Homo sapiens: one gene and its partners. The protein of the gene in region 1 purifies or fractionates together with the protein of each later gene. This does not show direct contact. Each region holds a gene or a part of one and is shown in the gene's direction. Other genes may lie near its edges.

Region 1 (4,879 bases):
CTGAGTTGATGCCATTCTCTTGCCTCAGCCTCCTGAGTAGCTGGGACTACAGGCGCCTGCCACAGCACCCAGCTAATTTTTTGTATTTTTAGTAGAGACGGGGTTTCACTGTGGTCTCGATCTCCTGACCTCGTGATCTGCCCGTCTCGGCCTCCCAAAGTGCTGGGATTACAGGTGTGAGCCACCGCACCCGGCCAATTATCCCATTTTACAGATGAGAAAGCTGAGGCATAGAGGGTTAAAGTAACTTGAGCAAGGTCTTTCAACAATGACAGATCTGAAATTTGAGTGCATCTGATTTAGTTCCAGAGATTATGCTCTTTACCATCTTACGGACTTTTCTTGTAGTCTTTAGTATTACGGACTTTTAATTGAAATTTCTGATTAAGATCATTTATGTTCCTTGAGTTATTTATGTATTCACTATTATTTCTTCAAGATTATCCATTTTTTTTTCACCTGAGTCTTACCTCACCTTTTATCTTACCCTGACAGGAGACTGTTGGGCAGAGTACTTGATTTTTAAATGTGGTCTTTTGGGGCTTGTGTACTTGCAGTGTCCTGACGTTCGTTTGAATATCATCTCCAATTTGGATTGTGTAAATGAAGTGATTGGAATCCGTCAGCTCTCTCAGTCTCTCCTTCCTGCCATAGTGGAGCTGGCAGAAGATGCCAAATGGAGGGTCCGCCTGGCCATCATTGAGTATATGCCGCTGCTGGCAGGCCAGCTGGTGAGTATGTGTTGCTCCATGAACTGCAGGGTAGTGTCAGATAGTGACAATTTACCATGGCAAGTAGGAGGCCTAGTAGCCTGTATGCTTATGTTTGTTTAGATGCATGAAAGTATGGCCTTGTTCTTGTTACCTATAGGATGGTTTTTATGTTTGTTAGTGCATACGTTTCTTTTCTTTTAAGATGGAGTTTCACTGTTGTTGCCCAGGCTGGAGTGCAATGATGCAATCTTGGCTCACTGCAACCTCCACCTCCTGGGTTTAAGCGATTCTCCTGTCTCAGCCTCCCAAGTAGCTGGGATTACAGGAATATGCCACCACACCCAGCTAATTTTGTATTTTTAATAGAGATGGGGTTTTACCATGTTGGTCAGGCTGGTCTTGAATTCCTGACCTCAGGTGATTCACCCGCCTCAGCCTCCCAAAGTGCTGGGATTCCAGGCGTGAGCCACTGCATCTGGCCTATTAGTGCATACATTTCTAACAAAAAGGTATAGGTTGAGTATCCCTCATCTAAATACGCTTGGGACCAGCATGTTTGGGACCAGAAGTGGATTTTGGAATATTTGCATTATAAATATTTACTGGTTGAGCAGCCCAAATTCAAAAATGCAAAGTCCAGAATGCTCCAATGAGCATTTCCTTTGAGCATCATATCAGTGCTCAAAAAGTTTTGGATTTTGGAGCATTTCACATTTTGGATTTTTGGATTTGGGATGCTTAATCTGTATTACAGAAACATATTTCACCTCATCACCACCGAAAAACAAAGCCATAGAATAATCAGTTTCTTGGTATATATAATGTAAATTTTATAATATTTAATGCCTTTGTGACTTAAGAAATGTTTAACTGAGAAGAAAAGGGATTATGGTTTTAGGGTAAGTCTGCTGTGATTTTTGCTCAAGGAAACTTCCCTGTTTGCCTTGTATTCTAAGCAAAATGTCCCTAGGTACCACTTGCCCTACATTCTGATTAAAGGGAGTTGAGGAATCACCATATAGAAAAGAAGTATTGAAAGGCCGGGCACAGTGGCTGACACCTGTAAACCCAGCACTTTGGGAGCCAGAGGCAGGCGAATCACTTGAGGCTAGGAGTTCCAGACCAGCCTGGCCAACATGGTGAAACCCCATCTCTACTAAAAATACAAAAATTAGCTGGGCACGGAGGTGCACACCTGTAATACCAGCTACTCGGGAGGCTGAGGCAGGAGAATCGCTTGAACCCAGGAGGCGAAGGCTGCAGTGAGCCAAGATTGCACTACTGCACTGCAGCCTGGGCAACAGAGTAAAACTTTGTGTCAAAAAAAAAAAAACAAAACAAAAACAAAAACTGAAGCTTGTAATGTTAGTATTTTGGTCAAAGTCCACATTATCACATTATCTGTTACTGTTTGAGTTTCGTGATCAGTGTTACCCTAACTAATACCATGTTAGTTAAAATTTCAAAGCTGGGTTTTATAGCCACATCCTTTCCTTTTTTTGAGTAGGTGGCCTAGACAGTTCTAAGTTTGATGTACCTTCATCTCTGTTGGTAGCACTTATTACAGAGTATTGTAATTGTCTGTTACAGTCTAGTTGGAGAGATGGGTGATCTCTTTTAGGGCAGGGACTGTATTTTATTTCCAGTCCCTACCATAGTGCCCGTCATTAATTAGGCACTTAACATTTTTTATTTTGGGGGCAGGGTCTTGCTGTTGCCCAGGCTGGTCTTGAACTCATGGCCTCAAATGATCCTCCTGCCTCGGCCTCCTGAGTAGCTGATAATAGGCATGAGCCACTGTGTATAGCCAACATTTGTTGATTGTTGAGTATTTTTTGAGAAAGATGTGTCAGTTTACTATTGACATCGCTACAGTTTGTTTCCCCTTCCTCACTCCCACTTCCATTCCTTTCAGGTCACAACATATGGAATTTATTTTTTCTTGTCTTGAACCCCTGAATTTGTATTTTTAATTTTAGTACATTTAGTTTATGAACATGCAATTTGTGGATGTCTGTGGCATTATATGTTTTATAAAATTGAAAGTGTCCGATTCTTTGAAAAGTATACCAGAGGTATTAGTGCATGGCAAATGGGATCAGGTGAAGTTATTTTGTCATCCTTTTTGTCTGTCACTCCCAAGTGCTATGGGTCATCTTCTCTTCACTGGTGATTGTCATGGATCTACTTTTCAGAGTGGAGAGGAGCAGTGATTAACTGATTTGCTGAAGACCAAAACTATCTGGAAGGGAGGGTGCATTTTAGTACCATTTCTTTTAACCTCTGCTCCTTCTAGACCTGGAAAGTTTCCCAGGGTTGCTAGCTCTATAGAGAGCAGTGTGAAAGCAAGGCAGATGGTGTCTTTGGCTGACTTACACCTGTCTGGCAGGGGTGACATGCCTCAGTCATGAACATTTTGCTTTACAATTTTAACTTCTTGTTAGTATATATATTCTCCTTAATTTCTCTTCATATCTAAATATTTTTATATCAGATAGTCATTTTATAAAATTCTCTCAAGACTTTATGTATGACCTGGCTTGTGGACGATGTTAAGTAAGTGTAAAGTTAAACTACAAAAACCGGAAAATAGGCCAGGCGTAGTGGCTCACGCTTGTAATCCCAGCACTTTGGGAGGCCTAGGTGGGTGGATCACCTGAGGTCAGGAGTTTGAGCCCAGCCTGACCAACATGGTGAAACCCCATCTCTACTATACAAAAAATTTAGCCGGGTGTGGTGGTGGGTGCCTGTTACTTGGGAGGCTTCTTGGGAGGCTGAGGCAGGAGAATTGCTTGAACCCAGGAGGCGGAGGTTGTAGTGAGCTGACATTGCACCACTGTACTCCAGCCTGGGCGACAGAGAGAGATTCCGTCTCGACAACAACAACAACAACAACAACAAACTGGAAAATAAAAGTTAATTAAAACTGAAGGAAAATTCTCAACCTGAAATGAAAAAGAAATCTTGGCTGACGTAATCTAAGTGTATGCCAAAATTTGTTCATTATGATCTTTTAGTACAAAGCAATTTTGGGCCAGGTGCGGTGGCTCATGCCTGTAATCCCAGCACTTTGGGAGGCTGAGGCGGACGGATCATCTGAGTCAGGAGTTAAGAGACCAGCCTGGCCAACATGGTGAAACCCTGTCTCTACTAAAAATACAAAATTAGCTGGGCATGTGCTGCATATCTGTAATCCCAGCTACTTGAGAGGCTGAGGCAGGAGAATCACTTGAACCCGGGAGGTGGAGGTTGCAGTGAGCTGAGATTGTGCCACTGTACTCCAGCCTGGGCAATAGAGTGAGACTCCATCTCAAAAAAAAAAAGCTATTTTGTCTTATTCAATCACTATTTTCAAAGCACTGACACATTATATTACCTCTCTTTTTTTAAAATATAGAATCACCAGTCAGGAACTTCTTAGAGTTCAAAGAAGCAAGACTGTAAATGTGTAGACCCCAGAAGGGAGGCACTAGGAAAGTGTGTCACAGCATTCTCCATGTGGTGTGGAAGCCCCGGGGTTAGAGGACTGTGTAAATCTGCTCCCGGAGCCCATCCCCAGCCTGCACTGAAGTGGCCACCTGTTGACAGTCGGGAGGAACAGGGCTGGGAGAGCAAGCCATGCCTGGGCCATATGCCCTGTAGTCCTGGGCCTGCTTTATTCTCCCTCCAGGGCTTTCTCCTGTTGTCTCGAAAATACTCTCTTTAACTGGGGATATCTCTATGTCTTGAGGTCAGTTGCTTTATCCTTAAGGATTTGTCATAATAGTAACCAAAAAGGGAAGACGATTGAGAATTAGTAATATTACTGACAGGTGTTTTCCTGGGTAATTCATTTTTACAGGTAATCCAGATTTGCTTGGCAGACCATACACAGTGCATTCTTCCTGCTCTTTTGCAGTGTTGTGGCTGACTTCTGGCCACCCTGTTCTCTTTTACCTAGCAGGGCCTATGCCAGCTCACGTATGCTTTTTTTTTGTTTATGATTTCCGTCCAATAAATAGATTTATGGTTTGTTTGTAATTCCTGTGGTGTTTCTATCTCTTATTTGTTTATTTGGAAACAAGTTTTTTTAGCCTTCAGGTAACCTTGGTGTAATGTAAATAGACCATCTTTATTTCTGAATTTTGGCAATGTATGTTAATGGAATCTTCTGTATCTGTAGGGTG
Region 2 (4,879 bases), on another chromosome or scaffold:
GTCTTCTCTGATCATGGAAAGCAACACAGCCAGTCAGAAAAAGCTCTTGGGCTAGGAGGAAGGAGGACCTGATTTCTCGGACTCAAAATCCCTTATGGCAGAAAAACATTGCTCAGTGACTTACAAAGTGTGTCATTTGTAAGACTGCACACCTCTGTCATTCACTAACATTAGGATGATAAACCATTTCATCTTACAAGCTGATGTGGTGAAAGTACCTGTTAATTGGTTTTATAGTCTCTTATCTGTAAAACATAAATAATTGTTTTTGGGTGTTTTGGGTTTTTTTTTTTTTTAAGATTTAAGTTCCTTGAGTCTCCGTCTCCTCCTCTGTTAAGTAAAGCAAATGCTTACCTCTCAGGATTGTTGAAAGGATTAAGTGAAGTAACAAATGTAAAAATACCTTGTGGAATGATTGCCACTTAGCAGCCACTCAAAAAATATTTGCCAAACCTCTGTTGTAGAGATGTTGAAAATCAAATGAGGTTAATTACTGTGAATGTGTAACAAAAAGTAAAGCACCACATAAATGCAAGATAATATCATTACTCAGACCAACCTGAGCAACATAGTGAGACCCTGTCTCAATTTAAAAAAAAAAAAAAAAAAGGTAATATCATTACTCATAAGCCAGGAAGTGTGGGAGTGGGTAGGAATGGAGAAGCCTGCCTTTTGATCCTGGCCAGACCATCACGAAGGCCTTTTTACCTGATACAAGTAGAGAACAAATAAGGGGAGACACTGGCTGGGGGAACAGGGCAACAGAGAGAGATGCACAGGTATATTCAGTTACCTTTCCCTGGTCCCCACCCTCAAAATACTGCTTGGACCCAAAACTAAAGAGGACTAAGCTGATGTATTGAGCTGATGGGAGGAAATGGCATTAGTGCTCTAGAGGAAGAGAGAAGGTGACATTATGAAGGAGTAATTATATATAAGAATTTTTTTAAAAGCTAGTCTGATTGCCAGCTAAAATGGTCTCCTAGGGGTTATTCTGGTTTCTGTTTTGTGTCAAGGTTTTTTTGGTCGGATATGCCGTAGTGCCTGCTCCATCTCTGGAGTTTGTTTCCTATTAGGAAGGGACTTTGTTTGCCTGAGGGAGCTGGCACATGCTGGACGTTGGTGCCATGACCCATCTGAGTCACATTCCTGACCTCTAGGGCCTAATAGTTGGCCCCATGCCTGCTCCTCTTGGGCCACACACCCTGGGCTCTGTTGTTGAAAGCCTCCTTTATGTGCTCTAGGCTCCCAGAACCCTGGCCGAAGCTCACCTCCCCCTGGCTATGTTCCTGAGCGGCAGCAGCACATTGCCCGGCAGGGGTCCTACACCAGCATCAACAGTGAGGGGGAGTTCATCCCAGAGACCAGCGAGCAGTGCGTGAGTATAGGGGGGCTGGGATATGCCTGTGGCCTGTATCAGCAGACCAAGCTCATAACAAGGGGTTCTTAGTAGTCACAGTGCAGAACTGAGGGACATGAACCCCATTTGAAAGCTCTTTTATAAACCAGGCCTGCCCAAATATGGATTGTCCCTTTTTAAGGGCCAAATAACAATTTCTGCCAAAGATGGGATCTAAAGGATCTAAACTACATAGTTTCCTTGTTGTTGGGTGAGGATTTAACAGATTTTTCTTCATCGTGGTCCTCTCATTGTTCCTACAGGCAGGCACCACCACGCCCAGCTCATTTCAGTAGTGTTTTAACATACGACTGGTTCTAAAGTGACAGGTTATGTTTTTCATTGGATATATTTTAGTTTTGCTGTTTCTTGATGAAAGGTAAGGAGTAAACCATATCAAAATTACACTGTAGGATTGGTTAGGCTGATCATTTATGATGGTAGACAGTTGTATTAGTTATCTATTGCTCCATAACAAATTACCACAAACCTAGAGGCTTAAAACAATATACATTTATCATTTTCCAGTTTCCCTGGGTGAGGAGTCCAGGCATGACTCAAATGGGTCCTCTGCTGAGGGTCACACAAGACTGCGATCAAGGTGTCAGCCAGGCTGCCTGCCTTTCTTGAGTTTGAGGCTCTTTTCTAAGCTCAGATGGTTGTTGCCAGAATTCAGTTTTTTTGTGGCTGTAGGACTGTGGTTCCTCTTTTCTTCTGAATGTCACCCAAGGGCTTCTCTGAGTTCCCTTCCTAGAGGCCACCTGCAGTTCCTTGCCATGGGGCCCTCTCACAACATGGCAGCTTCTTCAAAGCCAGCAGGAGAATCTTTTGCTCCAATCTGCAAAGATGGAGTCATAAAACATCACATAATCATAGGAATGAATATTCTATCCTCTTTGCCATAGTCTATTGGCTAGACTCACGTCACAGGTTCTACTTGCACTAAAGGGAAAGGCAGTTCATTGGGACTAATTGGAAGAGGGAGCAATCACCTTAGGGTGTGTCTACCACAGTGGCTCAGCCATTTTAGTGGCTAGCTTTTAAATTGGTGGCTTACTTGATGCAAATGGCAATTTGGCTTAGTGAACTCACCAAGCATGAGATCTCTAGCTTCATTCTGGTCTTTTCAATAAACTTGCTTTGATGTAAAAGAAAAGGCTGCTCTTACACTTTCTGGGCTTGGCCTGAGAAGGGGAAATTTCTTAAGGGGAAAATGTCCAACAGAAGGGCCTGTGCTGTCACATGGGAGATCTTATAAAAAGCTGATTCTTGTAACTTTTCTTTCATTATTCAAACTATGTAGGCTATGAGAAGCCCTTTGTACTCTTCTTCCTTCTATACTCCTGCCTTCCAGATAAATTCATGTTTGGAGTAGTGACCTGGAGTGCCATTAGCTGCAGATTTCCTTTTTGGGCATTTTACTGACCATCCTTTCTGGTTTCTCTAACCAGGGCACTTCTGGACATCAGCTGTTCTAGGGGTGACTTGGGTGTAAAATCCCAGAGATTGCAGATGAGCTTGATTGCCCTCAGTCTATGTCCCTCGCCATGGTCCTATACTCTGCCCCCTTCACTTTTTTACTTTGCCTGCATGGCCCTGGAAGGCCTGGGAGGATTTGACTCCCAGTGAGGACAGACTTTTAGAAAGAGGCCAAGGAAGGCAGTGGTTGGGGATTGCCAAGGTCCTCCCCCAGCGCCTGCCTCTTTAGCTGAAGAGAATTGCTCCTGGTAACAGGCCATTTGAGATCAATCTGCTTAACAGGAACGAACACTGCATAGTATGTAATAAAAGAATATTCCAGTGTGACTTTACTGAAAAGTGAAAATATGATAAGTTTTGTTTTTTCTTTAATCAGGTTTAAGCAATAATTGCATCTATTTACTAATTTTTAGAATGAGCAAAGCATGATTCATGTTAATTTTTTGGCCTAATTTTTCCAACAAAAATTATGTCAGTCCGGTCGCAGTGGCTCATAGCTGTAATCCCAGCACTTTGGGAGGCCAAGGCAGGAGGATTGCTTGAGGTCAGGAGTTCAAGACCAGCCTGGGCAACATAGCAAAACCCTGTCTCTACAAAAAAAAAAAATTTAATTAGCTGGGCATAGTGGCACACCTGCCTGTAGTCCCAGCTACTCGGGAGGCTGAGGTGGGAGGATCACTTGAGCCCAGGCTGCAGTGAATTGCACTCCAGCTTAGGTGACAGAATGAGACCCTGTCTCGAACAACAGCACCAACAACAAAATGCTAGCACAATGTAACGTCCTTCACTCCCTGCTTGACTTCTAACCATAAAGAACGTCATTTTTTACAAGAGCGTTCACAGGACTCAGCAGTTTTCCCCAAGGCCTCTTGTGAATCTTTGGTATTCTTCCTCCACCACACCTGCCATGTTATTTATTTGTCCATTTTGTCTTTTTCTGTTAACTAGTCTAAATTTGCCAAATATGCATCTGATGGATTTAAAGCAATTCTCTCCGATGTTGGTTTCATCCACTTTGGCTATCCTATATCCTTAGCAACATTTGCAGTTTTACTTTGCAATTAATTTGCCTTGATTGGCAGATTTTAAAAAATCATGTGTGACAACATGACTTAAAGCATTTGAAATTATGGGTGGGGATGGACCCTGGTATTAAATGGGAAAAAATATTTGAGTTGGAAACTAATTTTATGGAGGTCGTTAGTGAATTTTCATAATTCTGATACTTTGTTTCCCTATGTAATTTTTTAAAATTAATTAAAAAAATATTTAAACAGAAACAAGATCTCACTATGTTGCCCAGGCTGGTCTTGAACTCCTGAGTGCAAGTGATCCTTCCCTCTCGGCTCCCAAAGTGCTAGGATTACAGGCATGAGCCACCAAGTCTGGCCCCTATGTAATGTTTAATGTTGGAGCTCGGATAATGAATATTCTGAAATTGAAGACCCCACCCCAACTTTTGTGCAGAGAAAATGAAAGGGAGGACCTTCAGGACATTGATTGGAGAAAAAGGGATTCCAAAGGCCTTTTGTTGCTGCATTTGACCAGGGGCCAGAGAAATATTTTATTATATTTAGATATCTATTACCTCTGCATTGGACCAGGAACTGGGACATTTTTGTTCTGGTATCAGCTGTGCACTAACTAGTTTTATGACTTTAGACAAGTCTCCTAACCTTTCTAGGCCTGTAGTGCTCATCTGTGAAATGAGGCAATCCTTGTCTTTGTAAATTATAAATTATGGAGTGTAAACAGAAGCATTAAGGTCCCACCCGAACTCACTGGAAGGCTCAGCAGGGTAGTACCATCTCCAGCGCCAGGCTCCAGTGTTAATGAGCCAAGAACATGCCAACAAGAAAAGCAGAGCCTCTGCTTTGCTCTCCTGCCAGAGCTCCTTGGGATGCCAGCCAAGCATTTTTCTCCCTCCTGGAAACTTGCCTTTCAAACTAAGGGGGAGGATGGTACCTTTCTAACTATTCTTCCCATTGCATGGGGAGAAAA
Region 3 (4,181 bases), on another chromosome or scaffold:
AATAAATGTTTGTTTGTTAAAATGAATTTTGATTTTTTAAAAACACTATATGTTATTTCAACATGTCATCAATATAAAAAATTGATTGATTGATTGATAGTTTACATCTGTTTCTTGAACCAAGTTTTCAAAATCCAGTTGGTAATTTAAAAGTACACTTCAACTTGAATTAACTATATTGGATAGCACAGCCGTAAAATTAGAGACTAAGCTTCTGCTTTATTTAACAGTTGTTGAGTATTTCAAAACAGTTTAATTCATTCTTTTATTTCAAAGTCACAAAAGTTAGTTATGATTTTTAAAAGCATTAAATTAAGTGTCCTCATTTTAAAGTCAGATGAAGTTCACATCTCTAAAGGGTAAAAATCCAAAAGTATAGAAAGATAAAACAATCAATCTGCCTATAGCAGAGTTGTGAAATAAATAAATTGTTACTATGAAGTACTTACAATAGGGGAATAAAATTACCTATTTTTGTTATTAAATCAAATGTGTAAGGCTTATTTCATCCATATGAGGTGTCAACTTGACAGATGATGAGTAATTATGACTAAGAATCTAGCCCTTACTTTTAAAAGCTGACAGGATTTCCCTTGCTCAGTTAGAAAACAAAAATATTCAACAGATTCTGTGATAAGTAATTAATCGTTTAGGTTTGACAGTTGATTATTGTGTTCTTTGCATATTCATGTAAAACTGATGTGTGAATGACATTGCAGTGAGCTAGATTAACGGTGATTATAGATACAGTAGCCTGTCAAAGAAAGATGTCCTACATTAAAAAAGGTGACTTATTTTTGTTAGCTGTCATTATTTATTAACATGAAAAGGCAATGATGGCCATAAGAACCAAAGCATGAGTATCACACTGCACAAATCTGGGTATCACATGGATGCACTTTGTAATTATCAGTGTGCTTGTTCTTCACAGATCATAGGAAAAAGGGAAAAAAAAAACAAACCTTTAAATGAGGAGAAAGATGGTATAAATATTAGTAGTGGCTGACACTGAGTCCAGATAGTCTTGATTCCTAGAAATAAACAAAAGGTAAACAATGTCAATTTTGTGTGTGTGTATGGCGTGTGTGTAGTCATGTATATATGCGGGGAAAATGTTAAGGTATTCAGTCAGGAAACAAAAGGTTTAAAACTCATCTTTCTTAAAACTTGTTATAAGCACAGGGAAAGCAAAGTTGAGGTAACTAAACTGAACCAAAAATTCTGTATAAATAAGGATATAAGTAATTAACGTTTTAAAAAACATGTGGACCTTAAACAAACTGTATATTAAATTCCTCTTAAATGCCCATTTTAAATATTTAAGATAAATACATTTATGAATAACAAATCTGTGGGTGATTTAACCATGGCACCATATCCAAGGGATTAACCTTAATGCAATTTTCCTGTTAATTGTCCTAAGCTTTTTACTAATCCATTTTCCCTGTGGGTTAGTAATGGCAACATGCTGCTTACAGATATTCCCGGGGAAAAACATCCAGACACCAGCAAACAAAGAAATGTTGATTTCTCTTTTGTTTGCTCTGAAAGTAAAATAATTATTTACTTTAATTAACATGGAAAATATTGTTTAAATTCTGTACGAACCTAAACAAGATACGTTGCAGGGCTGATTTCACAGTGGAGGATGATCGGCTAAAATAAAGCCTCATTTATTAAGGGCTACACTTTTAACACTAAGAAAACATTTCTAGAATAAAAAGCAAAGGTAAGCATTATTCTATTAATAGTAAAAGAGGACATGGGATTTTAAAACTATACCTAAATTCTTGCAATTAACTTTTATGGGCTTGGACATTGTTGAAATGAGAAAATAATATAATATAGCTTCCTGGCAGGTTAAAAGTCAACACTTGATTTTGCTATTCTTCTGACTTTTTGAAACCCTGAAGTTCTGAATTTCAAGCTTTTAAGAAGCTTTTCAGCAATGGTTGTTTGTTTATGGTTCAAACATCTGAAATAACTACCTGCATTTAAAATCTAATGTTGATTATTTTCTTTTTACATTCTGTGTGGCAATGGAACATTTGCCCTTTCAAACAATAAAACGATTTAGCTTTGTGGCAGTGCTTTTTTGTAGACTGACTGACTATACCCTTCAAAAAGAAAAACTGCTCTACGGAATGCAAATTTTGAGGCATGTTTACCTGCTCGTGGAAGAAATAAAATGGAATTGAAAAAAAAAGGACTAAAATTGAAGAATGAAATTACAGTTGTGTTAAAAACCTTGGCTCTTTATAATCATGAATCTTCAGTATTAAACCAGACATTGATGCTGTTAATTTTTTTAAAGAACTATCACTCTTATCGTACAGGAGTAAAGATTAAATTGTAAAAGAAAGAAATTCCAATTTTTTAAAAAGTAAAGCCCAAAAGGCAATTAAGCTTAAGTACAAAAACAAAATAAAAATGAACAAAATCTAAACTAAAGTGAGCCCAACAACCTGAGATACAGCAATGTGTAACCTGAAGGAAGATAGGTGTAGACTGAAGGAGTCTTTCAAAACACCCCAGCATTAAATCTCACTCTGCGCTGCTTCTACACGTGATTATAGTCCCAGACAGACGACCTCATGGTTTTTTATCTTGTTTTACAAAAGGTCCTTGGGTACTCTTTAAAACATCTATTCTTTGGCAGGAAAATTAGCTCATTAGAACAATGACACCATTAAGGGACATTATAAGGGTCCTGGGGCTGAGGTGGGAAGATTTTTCTATCTGCCCCATATAGTTTACCCTTCCTTGCCTTGAAAATGAATATTATAGAACAGAGTACAGCTCTTAAAAGTTATTAGTATCATTATTATTATAGTTGTTATATAATACTTTAATTAAGAAAGATGAAAACCTTTTTTCTTTCCTAAGTCAGCCCAATGGTGCTATTTTACATATCAACACAGTTGAAAGGAAGTACTGTTATTTTGGGCTGCAGTGTTTCCTCCACATCTAAAGAAAGCCCATTTTGAAACTGGATACTGCATTAAAACAAAGAAGGAAAAATTATTTTAACTGTGTGCAGTTTTTGAAATTAGGCATTTGTACTATTTTGGTTTTACATAATTCTCTTGCATTAACAATTTACTGTTTTGTGAATCATGTGTACTAAAGCAAATTAAGAAAAAGAAAATAATTATCTGTGAAAGACTTTGTATATTAAACAAGTGACGCAAACCTTAGTTGTGGTTTCCACAATTTTTGCCTAACAGACTGATATTTGTATTTGCAACATCCAAACACACATACATTTTTTAAGATTTTACAAGGGTCTGAACATATAATTATTTTAAAGCAAACCTACGTTGACTAACTCATGACATGGTACAAATAAATAAATACACAAACAGAGGGAAACCAATGAAAATAAACTATGTGGACTTTCAAACCTGCTTTAAAAAAAGAGTTCAAGAGAAATCACAATGTAATCTAAAGCGGGACTGTCTCAAGAATAAGTCTTGGATATAGAAAAATAAGCATATAACAGCATTTTTCTGTTCAGAGATAATAGTGGATTCAGATAATTGCATGGATAATAAACATTAAAAGCAAGATATTAGAATCTAAGAGGTTTGGTGATAGCAAAAAACAAAGCTGTTTCCAAATGTCCAACTTCTAAGGACCTACAGGGCTTTCTACCAGTCTGCTAATTATATGAGCCAACTCCTCTGCCCAAAATGGAAATCTGAACTTAACACCCTCCCTCACCACCAGAAATTATAGCAAACATTCCTAGATCATTAATCACTGTCATTATGTGTCCAGTGATCCTAAACTGGGTGCTGTGATAGAGATTAACCAAGAGTAGCAAGGGTGTGGGGGTAGAGATGCTTTAGATAGAGAGAACACTTTTAAGCTCAGACCTAAAGGAAGAGAGAACAATCAGTTATTGTTGGCCTTGCAAAAGCTCAGGGGAATGGCAACGCAGGAAGAGGGAATGGTAAGTACCAAAATCCCGAATGGGAAATGTCAAGCAAAGGCTGATGGATTCGGCCAGTAGAGAAACAGGCCCTTGTAAGACTGTTTTATTACAGTCATCCCCCCAGTATGTGTGGAGGACTGGTCCCAGGACCTCCTTCAGATACCAGAATTCATGGATGCTCAAATCCCTGATATAAAAATGGTGTAGTATTTGCATATAACCTATGTATACCCTCTTGTATACT
Region 4 (4,879 bases), on another chromosome or scaffold:
TGTATTTTTTCCTAGTTCTTTTGTTTTTTAAACATGGTCTTCATCATGCTATAAATTTAATGTTATCTTGTACTTTTCCCCTATGATCTGCATAGTTTTTAGGTAATTTTTTTTTTTTTGCCATATATATAGTCTTTGTTATATGTAGTTGTTTTATTAGCTAAGATTTTTAAAAAATGTAGGTTATGATTGAATGCTTCACTAATGTTTATTATAAGAAGTCATAAATAAGACTCTTCCCTTTTGTAGCTTTGAAAATGTGAAATTGTTGCTATTGTCAAAAGTTTTTAATCAAGGTAAAATCACTTTACTTAAAACATTAATTTAGAAATAGAATATAGGCATGTCAGTTCCTAAATGCTGTTTCTGTTAAACTTAATGACAGACAATACTCGGTATGAGATATTAAGTGGTGATTCTAATGCAGACATTTTTTCCTTTTATACCAATACACATACTTTAAGAAAATGATTACATAAGTTTATATTTATTGTAGAATTTTTGAAAAATAAAAGCCAGAAAGAAGAAAGGCCAGCAAAAACTGCTACTGGTGTTAAGTTTTCCATTCTCCTTTCTGTGGGTATATATCAATGTATGGCTTCTATAAATCCTTAATTTTTTAAAATTAAAAAAATGGAATCATACCATTATGCTATTTTATAAACTTGATTTTTCTCATACCATAAAATATGGTAAATATCTTTCCCTGTGGCCACATAGTATACCATTTTATGTGTATACCATTTAACCATACCTTTATTTTTGGACACCAATTTCCAGTTTTTATAATAAGTAATGCTGTGAACATACTTTCAACTATTTCTATACAACTTTTTTTCTCCACAAGATAAATTCCTTTGATTAGTTTTTGAGAGAACCTAGTCCTTTTTTTTTGTTTTGTTTTAAGAAGAGAGGACGTCACTTGACCTTAAATCATTCGTTTAACCCCAGCACTTTGGGAGGCCGAGGCAGGCGGATCACGAGGTCAGGAGTTCGAGACCAGCCTGGCCAAGATGGTGACACCCCGTCTCTACTAGAAATACAAAAATTAGCCAGGTGTGCGCCTGTAGTCCCAGCCACTCGGGAGGCTGAGGGAGAAGAATCACTTGAACCTGGGAGGTGGAGGTTGCAGTGAACTGAGATCGTGCCACTGCACTCCAGCCTGGGCGACAGAGCGAGACTCTGTCTCAAAAAAAAAAAAAAAAAAAAAAAATTTGATCATATGCTATGTATTCAGGCAGTGTGCAAGGTGTTAGGGATTCATTAGTGAGCAAAACAGATGTGGCCCCCACTCTGGCACTTAACTTGAAGGTTAAGATGTGGGAGTGTATGCCAGGCATAACAGGTACTACATAGGTTTTTTTTTAAAAAAAAATTCCAGCATCTTTTAGGTACTGACTGTGTACTTCAGCTAATCTTCATCATTTATGTATTTAGAAATTGTGACCTATAAAAGTTATTTAACTTTTTTTATAGCTCTTTTTTTTTTCCTTTTTACAGTTGGTGGGCCAGTTTATTGCTAGAGCTGTTGGAGATGGAATTTTATGTAATACCTATATTGATAGTTACAAAGGAACTGTAGATTGTGTGCAGGCTAGGTAAGTAAATCACTTTTCCTACTTAGAATTTCAAAATAGGGGAAAATTCTACAGGATCCTATTGAAATGACACTTGTGTTAATCAGACACTCTGTACATCTGTTTGTCACTTCTCTATATTCTCCACTGTTAAAATGGAGAGACTATTGGCATGATATACCAGGAAGAGGACAGTACTATAATGGAAAAGTTCTGGAGTTTAGCTAAATCATTAATTACCTTCATGTCAAGCCACTCTTCTTTGGGCCTCAGTTTCTTTATTTATGAAACAAAACCATTGGACAGATCTTTAAGTTCTGTTTTCAGGTTCTAGCATTGTGTAATAGTTTAATATTCTAATAAGATGGATAACCTTAAGAAGAGAGGCCTGATTTATAGTTTTATTTTGTATTTATCTACTGTAGAAATCTTAGTCAGAAAGTATCTTTTTCACTCTTGTGATTTAGTATAATTAATATGATATTTGGTATAACTAAATGTGATATTTGGGAGTTATGCTATTTGATTTTTCTTAACTTCTTGGAGACTTGGACTCAGCCATGTCTTAGTTTTCCTCAGGTCTATATATTAACTTAATTTTCTAGGGCTACTTCACATCATAGTGGAATGGTGTCCCTGGGTAGGAAGGCATGGATCTAGGTGAAAGTTAATTATATGTGAAGTGTTTCTTCTCAGTGTAGATCAGTTATTTTGTAATGTGTTTTGATTTTTCTTGAATGAGAAATGAAATAGAGCATGAGAATATTAACATGAGGATCAACTTCTTTTTGCTCCTTTTTGTTTTGAAAAAGTGTTTTGAATTTTATTTTGCTTTTATGTTATGTGAAAGATTTAGGGCATATAGGATTTTGTCAGCTTTATCCCTAATTTAGTAAACTTTAGGTATGTCCAGCTATCAAACTTAAATTTTTTTCTTTCTCTGTAGAGCTGCTCTGGATAAGGCTACCGTGCTTCTGAGTATGTCTAAAGGTGGAAAGCGTAAAGATAGTGTGTGGGGCTCTGGAGGTGGGCAGCAATCTGTCAATCACCTTGTTAAAGAGGTAATGATTGGGTATTGTTTTTAACTTAATTTATATGTATTCCTCTGAGTGAAATAAATTGTGGCTACTAGCTGGTATTTTTATGGACAAAAATTAAGTTCGGTCTTACAGCTGCAATTGGAAAATGAAATAATTTTTTTAATATGTGGCTTTATAACCTTTTATTATAAATTATATGATTAAAAAATGAGTCTGTTAAAATGGCTTTCATGAATAATTATAAGCAAGCCATCTATGAACTTCAAAGGAATGCCTGAAATCTTTTTCTTATAGTATTATTTAATAATTTTCAAATGCTGTTGAAATGAGATTTTCTGTGTTTTAGCTATTCAATAAATACGCTTTTATATGAGCAATTTAAAACTAGATAGTCTTAAATAATGAGTTATGAATTATGAGCACTAGAGCAGATCAGAGTGTTAGATTTTTGTGAGGACATTCACTACCCATATGCATGTTTTAAAAGAAAATTGATTGTAATCCCAGCACTTTGAGAGGCTGAGGCGGGTGGATTGCTTGAGGCCAGGAGTTTGAGACCAGCCTGGTCAACATGGTGAAACCCCGTTTCTACTAAAAATACATAATAATTAGCCAGGCATGGTGGTGCGCACCTGTAATCCCAGCTACTCGGGAGGCTGAGGCACCAGTATTGCTTGAACCCAGGAGGAGGAGGTTGCAGTGAGCTGAGATCACACCACTGCACTCCAGCATGGGTGACAGAGCAAGACTCTGTCTCAAAAAAAAAAAAAAAAAAAAGCGATTTATTGCATTAAAATGCCAGATTTATTCCCTATGGATTTTTTTTTTTTCTGGCTGCAATGTGGTGTCCTATAACAAGAAACCAAAAAACAGAAAAAACTCCTTATCTGCAGATCTCTTTAAGAAAAGGCATGCAACTAGAAGATTTGTAGTTCATGTGCTTCTGATTTTTGAGTATAATCTTTTCATGTAACTACAATTTTGATTTTTAGTAAGTCTTTTAATGAGGTGTGTGTGTGTGTTTGTGTATGTGTATCTAGCTTAAGTGTTAAGGAGTTCAAATTGTAGTTAGAGCCTTGACTGTTTTTGCTTTTATATATGTTAAAATAGATGAGTCAGTGTTTGTAATGTCGTGATTGCAGTATCTGTTTTTTAAAAATTAAACAATTATTAGAAAAATTGAGGTATAAAAATAGTCAAGATGCCAGGGCAATTAGGCAGGAAAGATAAAAGGCATCCAGATTGGAAAGGAGGAGATAAAACTAGTTGTATTCCCAGATAACATGATCTGTATACAGAAAATTTGAATGAATCCACATTTTTTAACTCCCCAAAACTGAAACCAAACTATTAACTAAAAAATGAGTTCAGAAAGGTTGCAAGATAAAAGATCAGTACACAAAATTCAATTCTCTATACAGTAGAAATGAATGATCTGAAATGCAATTATTGCATTTGTGATAGCATCAAAAATAAAATACTTAGGAATAAATTTAACAAGACAAATGCAAGTCTTGTACACTGAAAACTGCAAAACAGGTTGAAAGAAATTAAGGAAGACCTAAATAAATAGAATGATATCCCATGGTTATGGATGAGGATACTTAATATTGTTAAGATGGTAATACTCTCCAAAATTAATATTTTTGGAAACTGGACAAGCTGTTTTATGGTGTGTGAATTCTCTCTCAATAAAGAAAATTGACAAGATAAAAATGGAAATAAAACTGCCAGTATATGAGTTTGAGGTTGACATTATTTGGATATTTGCTTACATGGAAGGGTTGGATCAAAGAAGACTTTTAGAAATGTATAAATGTATTTGTAATTTATCATTCTCAGAAGTGCATGGAATTTGATGGGGGATATTTTTAATACTTCTAAAGTTATGTAACAAATGTTAAAAGTAAGTAATATAATTTGAATAACAAGTACAGTCACGTGCCACATTATGATGTTTTGGTCAGTGATGGACTGTGTGGGATGGTGGTGGTCCCATAAGGTTATAACGGAGCTGAAAAATTCCTATCGTTGAGTGATATGGAGGCAGTTGTAATGTTGTAGCACAGTTACTTTATTTTTTCATAAATTTAATGTAGCCTAAGTATACAGTGTTTATAAAGTGCATAGCCAGTGTATGGGTAATGTCTTAGGCCTTTACATTCACTAACCACTCACTCATTGAATCACCCAGAGTAACTTCCATCCTGAAAGCTCTATTCATATTGAGTGCTCTATACAGGTGTATCATTTTAAAAATCA

The links. The genes of interacting proteins can lie anywhere in the genome.
Region 2: the proteins of PPP2R1B (region 1) and MAP3K3 purify together in Homo sapiens (tandem affinity purification; one large-scale study listed by IntAct). This does not show direct contact.
Region 3: the proteins of PPP2R1B (region 1) and MARCHF1 purify together in Homo sapiens (affinity purification with mass spectrometry, with the first as the bait; one study listed by BioGRID). This does not show direct contact.
Region 4: the proteins of PPP2R1B (region 1) and PDCD4 fractionate together in Homo sapiens (co-fractionation; one large-scale study listed by BioGRID). This does not show direct contact.

What each region holds. Positions count from the first base shown.
Region 1 is NC_000011.10:111,748,011-111,752,889, reverse strand, and holds part of PPP2R1B (serine/threonine-protein phosphatase 2A 65 kDa regulatory subunit A beta isoform), read left to right. Parts: intron 1-557; coding exon 558-731; intron 732-4,875; coding exon 4,876-4,879. UniProt on the Homo sapiens protein: The PR65 subunit of protein phosphatase 2A serves as a scaffolding molecule to coordinate the assembly of the catalytic subunit and a variable regulatory B subunit.
Region 2 is NC_000017.11:63,680,522-63,685,400, forward strand, and holds part of MAP3K3 (mitogen-activated protein kinase kinase kinase 3), read left to right. Parts: intron 1-1,244; coding exon 1,245-1,378; intron 1,379-1,814; exon of another isoform or gene 1,815-2,237; intron 2,238-4,879. UniProt on the Homo sapiens protein: Component of a protein kinase signal transduction cascade. Mediates activation of the NF-kappa-B, AP1 and DDIT3 transcriptional regulators.
Region 3 is NC_000004.12:163,523,734-163,527,914, reverse strand, and holds the end of MARCHF1 (E3 ubiquitin-protein ligase MARCHF1), read left to right. Parts: 3' UTR 1-3,197; downstream 3,198-4,181. UniProt on the Homo sapiens protein: E3 ubiquitin-protein ligase that mediates ubiquitination of TFRC, CD86, FAS and MHC class II proteins, such as HLA-DR alpha and beta, and promotes their subsequent endocytosis and sorting to lysosomes via multivesicular bodies.
Region 4 is NC_000010.11:110,888,033-110,892,911, forward strand, and holds part of PDCD4 (programmed cell death protein 4), read left to right. Parts: intron 1-1,500; coding exon 1,501-1,598; intron 1,599-2,523; coding exon 2,524-2,638; intron 2,639-4,879. UniProt on the Homo sapiens protein: Inhibits translation initiation and cap-dependent translation. May excert its function by hindering the interaction between EIF4A1 and EIF4G. Inhibits the helicase activity of EIF4A. Modulates the activation of JUN kinase.